Linked DNA regions of Homo sapiens: region 2 is reported to be linked to region 1. The links are microRNA targets in miRTarBase. Many come from high-throughput screens and were not tested one by one. Region 1 holds a microRNA gene; the other region holds the end of a gene's coding sequence.

Region 1 (4,244 bases):
TCTCCCTCTGTTGCCAGGCTGGAGGGCAGTGGCGTGATCTCGGCTCACTGCAACCTCTGACTCCCAGGTTCAAGCAATTCTCCTGCCTCAGCCTCCCAATTAGCTGGGATTACAGGCATGCACCACCACGCCCAGCTGATTTTTGTATTTTTTTTTTTTTTGAGATGGAGTCTTACTCTTGTCACCCAGGCTGGAGTGCAGTGGCAAGATCTCGGCTCACTGCAACCTCCGCCACCTGAGTTCAAGCGATTCTCCTGCCTCAGCCTCCCGAGTCGGTGGGATTACAGGTGCCTGCCACCGCGCCTAATTTTTTTGTATTTTTAGCAGAGACGGGGTTTCAGCATCTTGGCCAGGCTGGTCTTGAACTCCTGACCTCATGATCCACCCGCCTCGGCCTCCCAAAGTGCTGGGATTACAGGCGTGAGCCACCACGCCCAGCCAGAACCCAAGTTCTAGAGGTAACGACGCCAGGCCAGGCAGAAGCTTCCAACATGGCAAAACCCCATCTCTACTAAAAATACAGAAAATTGGCCAGGCATGGTGTCGGGTGCCTGTAATCCCAGGCTACTAGGCCCCTTCCCAAGGACCCCAGGGACTCAGAGGAGCTGCCAGTGCCAAGGCCCTGAGAGGGGCACAAGCTTAGAGGGTGGGCTCCAATAAGAGGGCCAGAGGGCATGAAAGGTGGGAGGTGAGGTTGTAGTCTGGTTACCCTGGGCCTCACACCATGGCACTGAGCTCGAGTATTCCAATATGAGACAGGAGGCGACTGACAGCGCGCCGGCCCCACCAATCTTTGGCCAGGAGTTTGCAACCTGCTCAGGTGGCTCCCATCCCGAGTCTACACCTGTGCTTGCTGCCAGAGCCCTTCTGTGCACTCTCCCCTGCACAGCCTAACTCCTGGGAAGGTCTACACAGCTGGTGCCTCATCCTCTCCCCCTCAACTTGCCCTCTGGCAGCCTGAGTTGCAGCCACCCCCCCCAAGTCCTGGCCCAAACAGCTCCTGCAGGGGGTCATTCAGCTCCAAGATTCCAGGGTGGGGACAGAGACTTGCGTTTCCTTTTTACTTTCTGGCGTTTCTGATTTCTCCACACTGAACCTGTCTTGTGTGAGAATAAAAGCTGTACACAGGGAAAACTCCAACACACCCTTTCCAGTGAGCTGGCTTGACCCTCGGTGCCCCGTGACAGTCCCTCCGGCCTTGCTGTCCTGTGCTGGCCTTGGGTCTGCCCTGCCCCTTAAAAGGCTGGGGTCCTCAGGGCTGCACAGAGCCCTGCCTCCTCTGGGATGGGAGGTCCAGGGCTCTGTGGAACATGGGAGTTTGAGAAAGCACATTCTGTGCTGTAACCTTATCCTCAGGAAATGAAATAAAACAATAGACACTGAACCCAAGTGTCCAAGATGTAGGCATACGGATTCATTTACTTGGCACCAACTTTTTCACTCCTCCTTTCTGGTCTCTCCTCAGCCCTGACATGGAGGTCAGGGATTTGTGTCTGTCTTGTCCCCAACACAGGGCACAGGGCAGTGCGCCGACTGAGTGCATGATTCCCAGGCAGCAGGGAAACAGGGTGCTCAGGAAGATGTGGTTTTGCAAAGTTTAGTAACCCAGCAGCACACCCGTGTGGACGCATCCCTTTCCAGTGCCTGTCCTCACCCCCTCCCCAATGTCCCCCACCCAGTGTCAACTGTGCAGGCCCTGGGCACACCAAGATGAAGGGGACAGACCTGGGACCTGCCCTCAGGGTACTTCCAGCTGAAGGCAGCCCCCTGTCACCCACAAGGGAGCTGAGGCTCCCTTGGCGGGTCAGGTCAGGCAAATCTGTCCCAGAGCCCAGTCCTCCACTGTCCCCCACATGTTGACCTTAGTCCCCAAATCCAACAGCCCTCCCCCGACCACACACACACACCCAGAACCCTGCCCTCTCCTTGCAAAGTGCACAGCTAAGGGCCCGCACTCCTCATCTCCCAGGCCTGGCACGATCCCACTGCTGCCCTCACACGGCCTGCCTCAGCTCTCTCAACAAAGGACCCTCCCTGCAAGGAGGTTTTTCTTTTTGAAATAGGGTCTTGCTCTGTCATCCAGGCTGGTGCACAATGGTTCGATCATAGCTCACTGCAGCCTTGACCTCCTGGGCTCAAGCGACCCTCCTGCCTCGGCCTCCTGAGTAGCTAGGACTACAGGCCTGCAGGCATGCGCCACCACATCCTGCCGATTTTTTTTTTTTTTAGAGATGGGGCCTCACTATGTTGCCCAGGCTGGCCTCAAACTCCTGGCTTCAAGCGATCCTCCTGCCTCAGCCTCCCAAAGTGCCTGGATTACAGGCATGAGCCACTGAACCCAGCCTCAAGGAGGTTTCTGAAGCTCAACTATGGAATACCTACTGTTTACCAGGCTACTAGGCCCCTTCCCAAGGACCCCAGGGACTGACAGCTCAGTGCAACCTGCCCCAAGCATAATTTTCAAGGCATGTGCATTCTCTCAATAACAAAGCAAAACAGGTCATGCTTGTCTCCTTATCCGTTTCCATCATTTTCTCACTACTGCCACATGCTGTCAAGGTACTGGATTTCCCTCCCAAACCTCCTCAACCAGGAATGGATGTGCAGGGATTTGTGCTTTACCTCATGAGCCCTCCAGCATCCCAAGGACATCCTGTTCCTAAGGTAAGTGACTACATGTAGGTAGTCCAGTGTAATCACTGTGTCTGCAGGAGGCCTCCAGCCACCTGAGTAGCCCCACAGCCAGCTCCTGCCCTTTTGGGTCTGGGCTTCTCTTGGGGCCCCCATACCACTGCTTTTCTGGCCCATGGGCCACTCTCCCCCATCCGCACACCTGCCTCCCTGAGGCAACCAAGTGGGTCAGAGAGGCTGTCGATATTCAAACCCAGGCCTCCAGACCCCTCGTTCAGGGCCCACCAGCCATCACGAGCCCTGGACTAGGAGTCAGCAGACCTAGGGTTTGGGTCTCTGCTTAACATTCTACTTAGACTCTAAAAGGAAACTAACATGAGCACTGGGGACCCCTGCCCCTAGCACCAGGCTGCACTACTGACAACACCTACCTGTGTGTCCTAGTACCAAATACACAGAACCTTTCGACCTGCACCTCCAGGAGGTAGGTACCCACTGGAATTTGGATAAAAGAACCATGTGACCCTAAACCTGGAAACGTGGCACACGGTGTGGCCTTGCCTGCCTGCAGGCCCTAAAGAAGGAAGCTGGGCCCGGCCTAAGGCTGATCTGACTCCTACAGCGAAGAGAAAGCGCCTGGCCCGTCCCTGCTCCCAGGCTCCAACCTGACAGTCTGGACCTCCAGAGGCGCTGGGGAAGGGCTGGTGGGAAGTCACCGAATGGGACGCTCCACAGGGACCAGGGCAGTCCCTTGCCACTGCGAATGTCAGGGACTCCTGGGGGGCCGAGTCAGACTCGGCTCTCATTCATCCCCGCAGCCCATGGATACCCTGGTGACCCAGAGCCAAGCACCCTCCGACTTCAGCGCCTGAGCGCGGCCCCTACCGAGCCCCTCCGGTCTCGCCCCGTCCGGCCGCCGCTGACGGAGGCGCTGCGATCTGGCCCGACTCCACTCTGCAGCCCAGTCCAGGAACCTCCCTCTCTCCACAACCTTCCGCGGCTCCCGCGACCCGCAGTCCTCGGGAAGGAGCTGTGGCCCGAAGGCCTGCTGCGCCCTTTGCCCATGGCCCCTTTCCCTTTTAAGGTTCCCTGCTCTCCGCCCAAATCCCAGCCTCAGGCTCCGCAGGAAGCGCCCGTGCGCGTCCGACCCCCAGAACCCGGCGGGTTCGGCCAGGAGTCCGGAAGCCCCGGAGGCCACCGCCGCCGCGGGCGCGCAGGCGGGACGGGCAGAGGCTCCCCACGGGCGATTCCCGCTCGCGGAGTTTCGCAACTAGCGGCGTCCCAGTCTGCGGGCCTCGGAACGTCCCGGCGCTCCACGGCCGTTTTCGCGGCAGGGTCCGCACGGCACAGACTAGGGCGCTGAGGTTCTGCGGCGGCGCCGGACTCCGAACCCAGGGTCCGGTTCCCGACCCGGTCCAGACCAGAGCCACCCCGCGTACTCCGGGTGGGGGAGTCCTCGGCTCAACCCCGCCACCCCGCGCGTCCCCTCCCGCCGGACCTGCGCACCCAGCGCGCTCTTTGTCTGAGGCGTCCCCGCGCCCCGCCCGCGCGCCCACCACGTCCCCCGCGCCCCGCCTCCCGCGCACGCCCGGCCAATGAGGCGCGGCGGCGAA
Region 2 (4,244 bases), not on the chromosome of region 1:
AACAGGAACCATGGCGGCAAGCCTGGTCTGGTCCTTTCCTGCTGTATTGGTGCTGGGTTGGGCAGCCACGGCACTGCTGGCCAGCCTCTGATGGGTGAGGGGGCCCCTCACCCCTTGTGCCCTTCCTGCCCCTTCCCACTGGCTTCCTCCATTGACCTCATGAGCGCAAGCTCCCAGGCCCGTGTGTGTGTTGGGCCGAAGACTGGGGAGGACTGCCCCACCTGCCCTTAGCCCCTGCCTGCCCCATCGCCTTCTCCCAGGGAGGCCCAGGGAGGGCCTGGAGGGAGTGCGCATGCCCAGGGTAACCTGTTTCCCTGCCTTCCGCTTGCTCCCAGGTATAAGGCAGGAGCCTACCTGGACATCCCTGCTCAGCCCCGCGGCTGGACCTTCCTTCTGCATTGTTTACATTGCATCCTGGATGGGACGTTTTTCATATGCAACGTGCTGCTCTCAGGAGGAGGAGGGAATGGCAGGAACCGGACAGACTGTGAACTTGCCAAGAGATGCAATACCCTTCCACACCTTTGGGTGTCTGTCTGGCATCAGATTGGCAGCTGCACCAACCAGAGGAACAGAAGAGAAGAGAGATGCCACTGGGCACTGCCCTGCCAGTAGTGGCCTTCAGGGGGCTCCTTCCGGGGCTCCGGCCTGTTTTCCAGAGAGAGTGGCAGTAGCCCCATGGGGCCCGGAGCTGCTGTGGCCTCCACTGGCATCCGTGTTTCCAAAAGTGCCTTTGGCCCAGGCTCCACGGCGACAGTTGGGCCCAAATCAGAAAGGAGAGAGGGGGCCAATGAGGGCAGGGCCTCCTGTGGGCTGGAAAACCACTGGGTGCGTCTCTTGCTGGGGTTTGCCCTGGAGGTGAGGTGAGTGCTCGAGGGAGGGGAGTGCTTTCTGCCCCATGCCTCCAACTACTGTATGCAGGCCTGGCTCTCTGGTCTAGGCCCTTTGGGCAAGAATGTCCGTCTACCCGGCTTCCACCACCCTCTGGCCCTGGGCTTCTGTAAGCAGACAGGCAGAGGGCCTGCCCCTCCCACCAGCCAAGGGTGCCAGGCCTAACTGGGGCACTCAGGGCAGTGTGTTGGAAATTCCACTGAGGGGGAAATCAGGTGCTGCGGCCGCCTGGGCCCTTTCCTCCCTCAAGCCCATCTCCACAACCTCGAGCCTGGGCTCTGGTCCACTACTGCCCCAGACCACCCTCAAAGCTGGTCTTCAGAAATCAATAATATGAGTTTTTATTTTGTTTTTTTTTTTTTTTTTGTAGTTTATTTTGGAGTCTAGTATTTCAATAATTTAAGAATCAGAAGCACTGACCTTTCTACATTTTATAACATTATTTTGTATATAATGTGTATTTATAATATGAAACAGATGTGTACAGGAGTTTATTACTTATTGGGTCCTGTCTTTGTGATGGTACCCCTGCCCTCTCACCCAAAAAACTCTAAACTCCCTTCTACTGCTGCCATGTGCCCCGCCGGAACCCCTGGGACCCGTGCAGACACTTGGATTTGGCATGTCGTACCCCAGGCCCTTGTCTTCTTCCATTCGTTGAGGAGCCGAGCCTCACCCATCTAGTCCCCAGCCTCAGCCAGCCTTCCTTGCCTGCTGACTTTGAGTTGGTACAGTGCCCCCTTCCCTCTTTATGCCCTCACCATTCCTGGGGCATGTTCCTCCTGACCTGAATCACTTCTTCCTTCCTCTCTTCAAGCCTGAAAAAGCTTATGGGGCTCCCTAGTTCTGCCTGTTTTTCTCATATTCAAAAGGATTCTCTTGGCCGGGAGCGGTGGCTCACGCCTATAATCCCAGCACTTTGGGAGGTCAAGGCGGGCAGATCACGAGGTCAAGAGATCGAGACCATCCTGGCTAATAGGGTGAAACCCCGTCTCTACTAAAAATACAAAAAATTAGCCCAGTGTGGTGGCGGGTGCCTGTAGTCCCAGCTACTCGGGAGGCTGAGGCAGGAGAATGGCATGAACCCAGGAGGTGGAGCTTGCAGTGAGCCAAGATAGCGCAACTGCACTCCAGCCTGGGCGACAGAGCGAGACTCCATCTCAAAAAAAAAAAAAAAAAAAAAAGCATTCTCTCGTCGGTGGATGGGATAGGGCCTCTGCACCCTGGTGACATCTGAGTCCTTCCTCCTGCTGTTGCAGGGTGCCTGGCTCTTTTCTTAGCCCCAGCAGGGTACAGGTCTCAGGAGACAGGGCAGGAGGGAGGTTTGCCTTGTTTTTCCTCTTTGTAGCAGACAAGAGCGCTGAGAGTCTGAGCACCTTGTCTGCCCAGGGCTGCTAGAATTTATTGAAGACTGCAAAGACAGGGAGAAAGGGGAGGAGGAGGTAGCCTTCCCTGAGTCCAGGTTTCTCTTGCTGAGGCACTAATGAGGGGGTTTCCAGTCTCACTAGGAGTTTCATGCCTAGCTTCCTCTAAGGCACAGGATAGTCCCTAGGGTGCCACAGCCCTCTCTATAGCCGAAAATATGCTCCTCCATGGAGAGCAAATTATGAAAAAATGAGCCACTGACAAAAAGCTGAGCAGATGCTCCCAGCTCTCAGCCTGTCCACAGTAAAGCAAAATAGACCCATTAGATGCCCTGCTCCTAATGGAGTCCAAGGGTTTGGAGTGCTACTTGCCCTCCCTTTTTTCCTCTCTCCTTGACACAGACACACCATGCCCACCCCAGACCTGGGTGCTTATGCCAGAGACACAGGAGCACGCACACGCTCCACGCCTCACTCATCGCTCCCTGTTCCCTTCACTGTACACACAGGGTATCAAACAGGAAAGCATTCAGGGAACCGTTCCCACAGCCTGAGCCGGCAGCAGGGGGAAGAACAACACGACCTCACTCTTCCTGCCCAAAATGAAACAGGAAAGCAGCTCCCAGGCCCTAGGGGTGTACGGGAGGGGGGAACTGGGCTGGGACACGAAGGCAAGATGACGAGGCTCCCATGTGGGGGACAGGTAGGACACCCGCAGCCCTGCACGTCCACAACACCAGGCTGTGACGGGCTGCACAGGCTGCCAGACTCGCAGAGAAGAGCCCCGGAGAGGAGTTGGCTGGCAAAGCTCACAGCTGCTCTGATGCACTAGATGGGGAGCTGGAGAGCCCACCAAAAAAGCTGGCTTTCTGGGGAAAGTGGGGACCCGTGGGGAACTTGGTCTGGGCAGCTCCGACCTGCAGCTCATGCCAGGCTCCACCTTTAACAACATCCCACAAGCTGGGCAGGCACTTGGGGTGTAAACAGGCCACAGCGGAGGAAGCCCCTTCTCCCCAGGATTTCCTGAGAGTCCAGCCCCTTCTGATAGGTAAGGCACCCAAGACCCTCATGATCACTTGAGTGTCCTGGGGTACAGGAGATTTCCTAGGCTTGGCAGAAAGGAGGCCAGATAATGGTTCTAGACTCACTGTGAGGTGCCTTCCACAGGTTAGCAAATGCCCACCTTTAATTTGCATGGGTATTTCACCAGGGAATTCGGAGTTTAGTAGTTCCTTAACAGCCTGGAGCCAGTGCCCTGCCTGGAGAATCAATTTGACCCCACGGTGACCTGAGGACAGCTGCTTTTCCAGGGCCCCTCGGCTGGTAGAGTCAGGGAGGGGTTGTGCAGAAGGAGAAATGACTTTATCCTGCTTGCTCAGCCAGGGTTCCTCTCCTGCCTCAGGGCCAGGGTCAGCCTGGTCAGGGGGTAGGGAAAAAAGGACAGTGGCTCCCACCTCCCCCATCCCAGGCTAGAAAAGGCCACCAGACTAAACCACGGTGGTGTGGATGCTCCATCTCTTGACTGGGACCCACAGAGCTCTCCGTAGCTTCCCTCGCCGCAGCTCTCCCAGCCTCTCCCTCTGGATCCACAGGATCAGCGGCCCCAGCCCTCCGCCCCACGTGGCTTGCTGCATTCCGGGAAGGGGGTGGAAATGATTCACTGGGGGAACTGTGACTGTCCCTTCCTCGGGCGGGGATGCGCCTGCGAGGTCCCAGCGGCCTTCCCTGGGCGGCTGCGCCCTCCCTCGCGCCCAGGGCGCCCCGAGGCCTGCGCGGCGGCGGAAGGGGCAGGTGCGCCTGCCCGCCCGGGTCAGCCCTCCACCTGCCGCCGCCGTGCCCCGCAGCTCCCGCGGCTCCCCGCCCCCCGCGCTCTTTGTTACAGCCCGACTTCCTGTTTGCGGCAGCCGACCCGGCTCACTTCCCGGGCCGGGAAGCCGCCGAAGGCCGCGAGCTTCTCGGAGGCTCCCCCGCCCGCTCGGCTCCGCCTCC

What was found. Region 1 holds the annotated microRNA hsa-miR-345-3p (GCCCUGAACGAGGGGUCUGGAG, at 2,891-2,912, opposite strand). A microRNA usually pairs through its seed, bases 2 to 8, with sites in the 3' UTR of a target mRNA and lowers its output. Matches are read on the target gene's strand: a 7mer-m8 pairs with bases 2 to 8, a 7mer-A1 pairs with bases 2 to 7 and ends in A, and an 8mer does both.
Region 2: the mRNA of DLL4 is a reported target of hsa-miR-345-3p. Seed matches in the 3' UTR shown: 7mer-m8 at 621-627.

The regions. Positions count from the first base shown.
Region 1 is chr14:100,306,580-100,310,823 of GRCh38, reverse strand. MIR345 (microRNA 345) reads right to left here and starts at 2,965; the gene lies at 2,868-2,965. RefSeq lists enhancers at 3,400-3,569, 3,600-3,669 and silencers at 3,760-3,829, 3,920-4,244.
Region 2 is chr15:40,937,694-40,941,937 of GRCh38, forward strand. It overlaps DLL4 (delta like canonical Notch ligand 4), which reads left to right. Exons shown (of 11, transcript NM_019074.4): 11 at 336-1,380. The coding sequence ends at 341. Among named protein-coding and RNA genes, the nearest start is that of DLL4, 10 kb to the left of the region's middle. RefSeq lists enhancers at 508-1,324, 2,607-2,666 and a silencer at 3,957-4,244.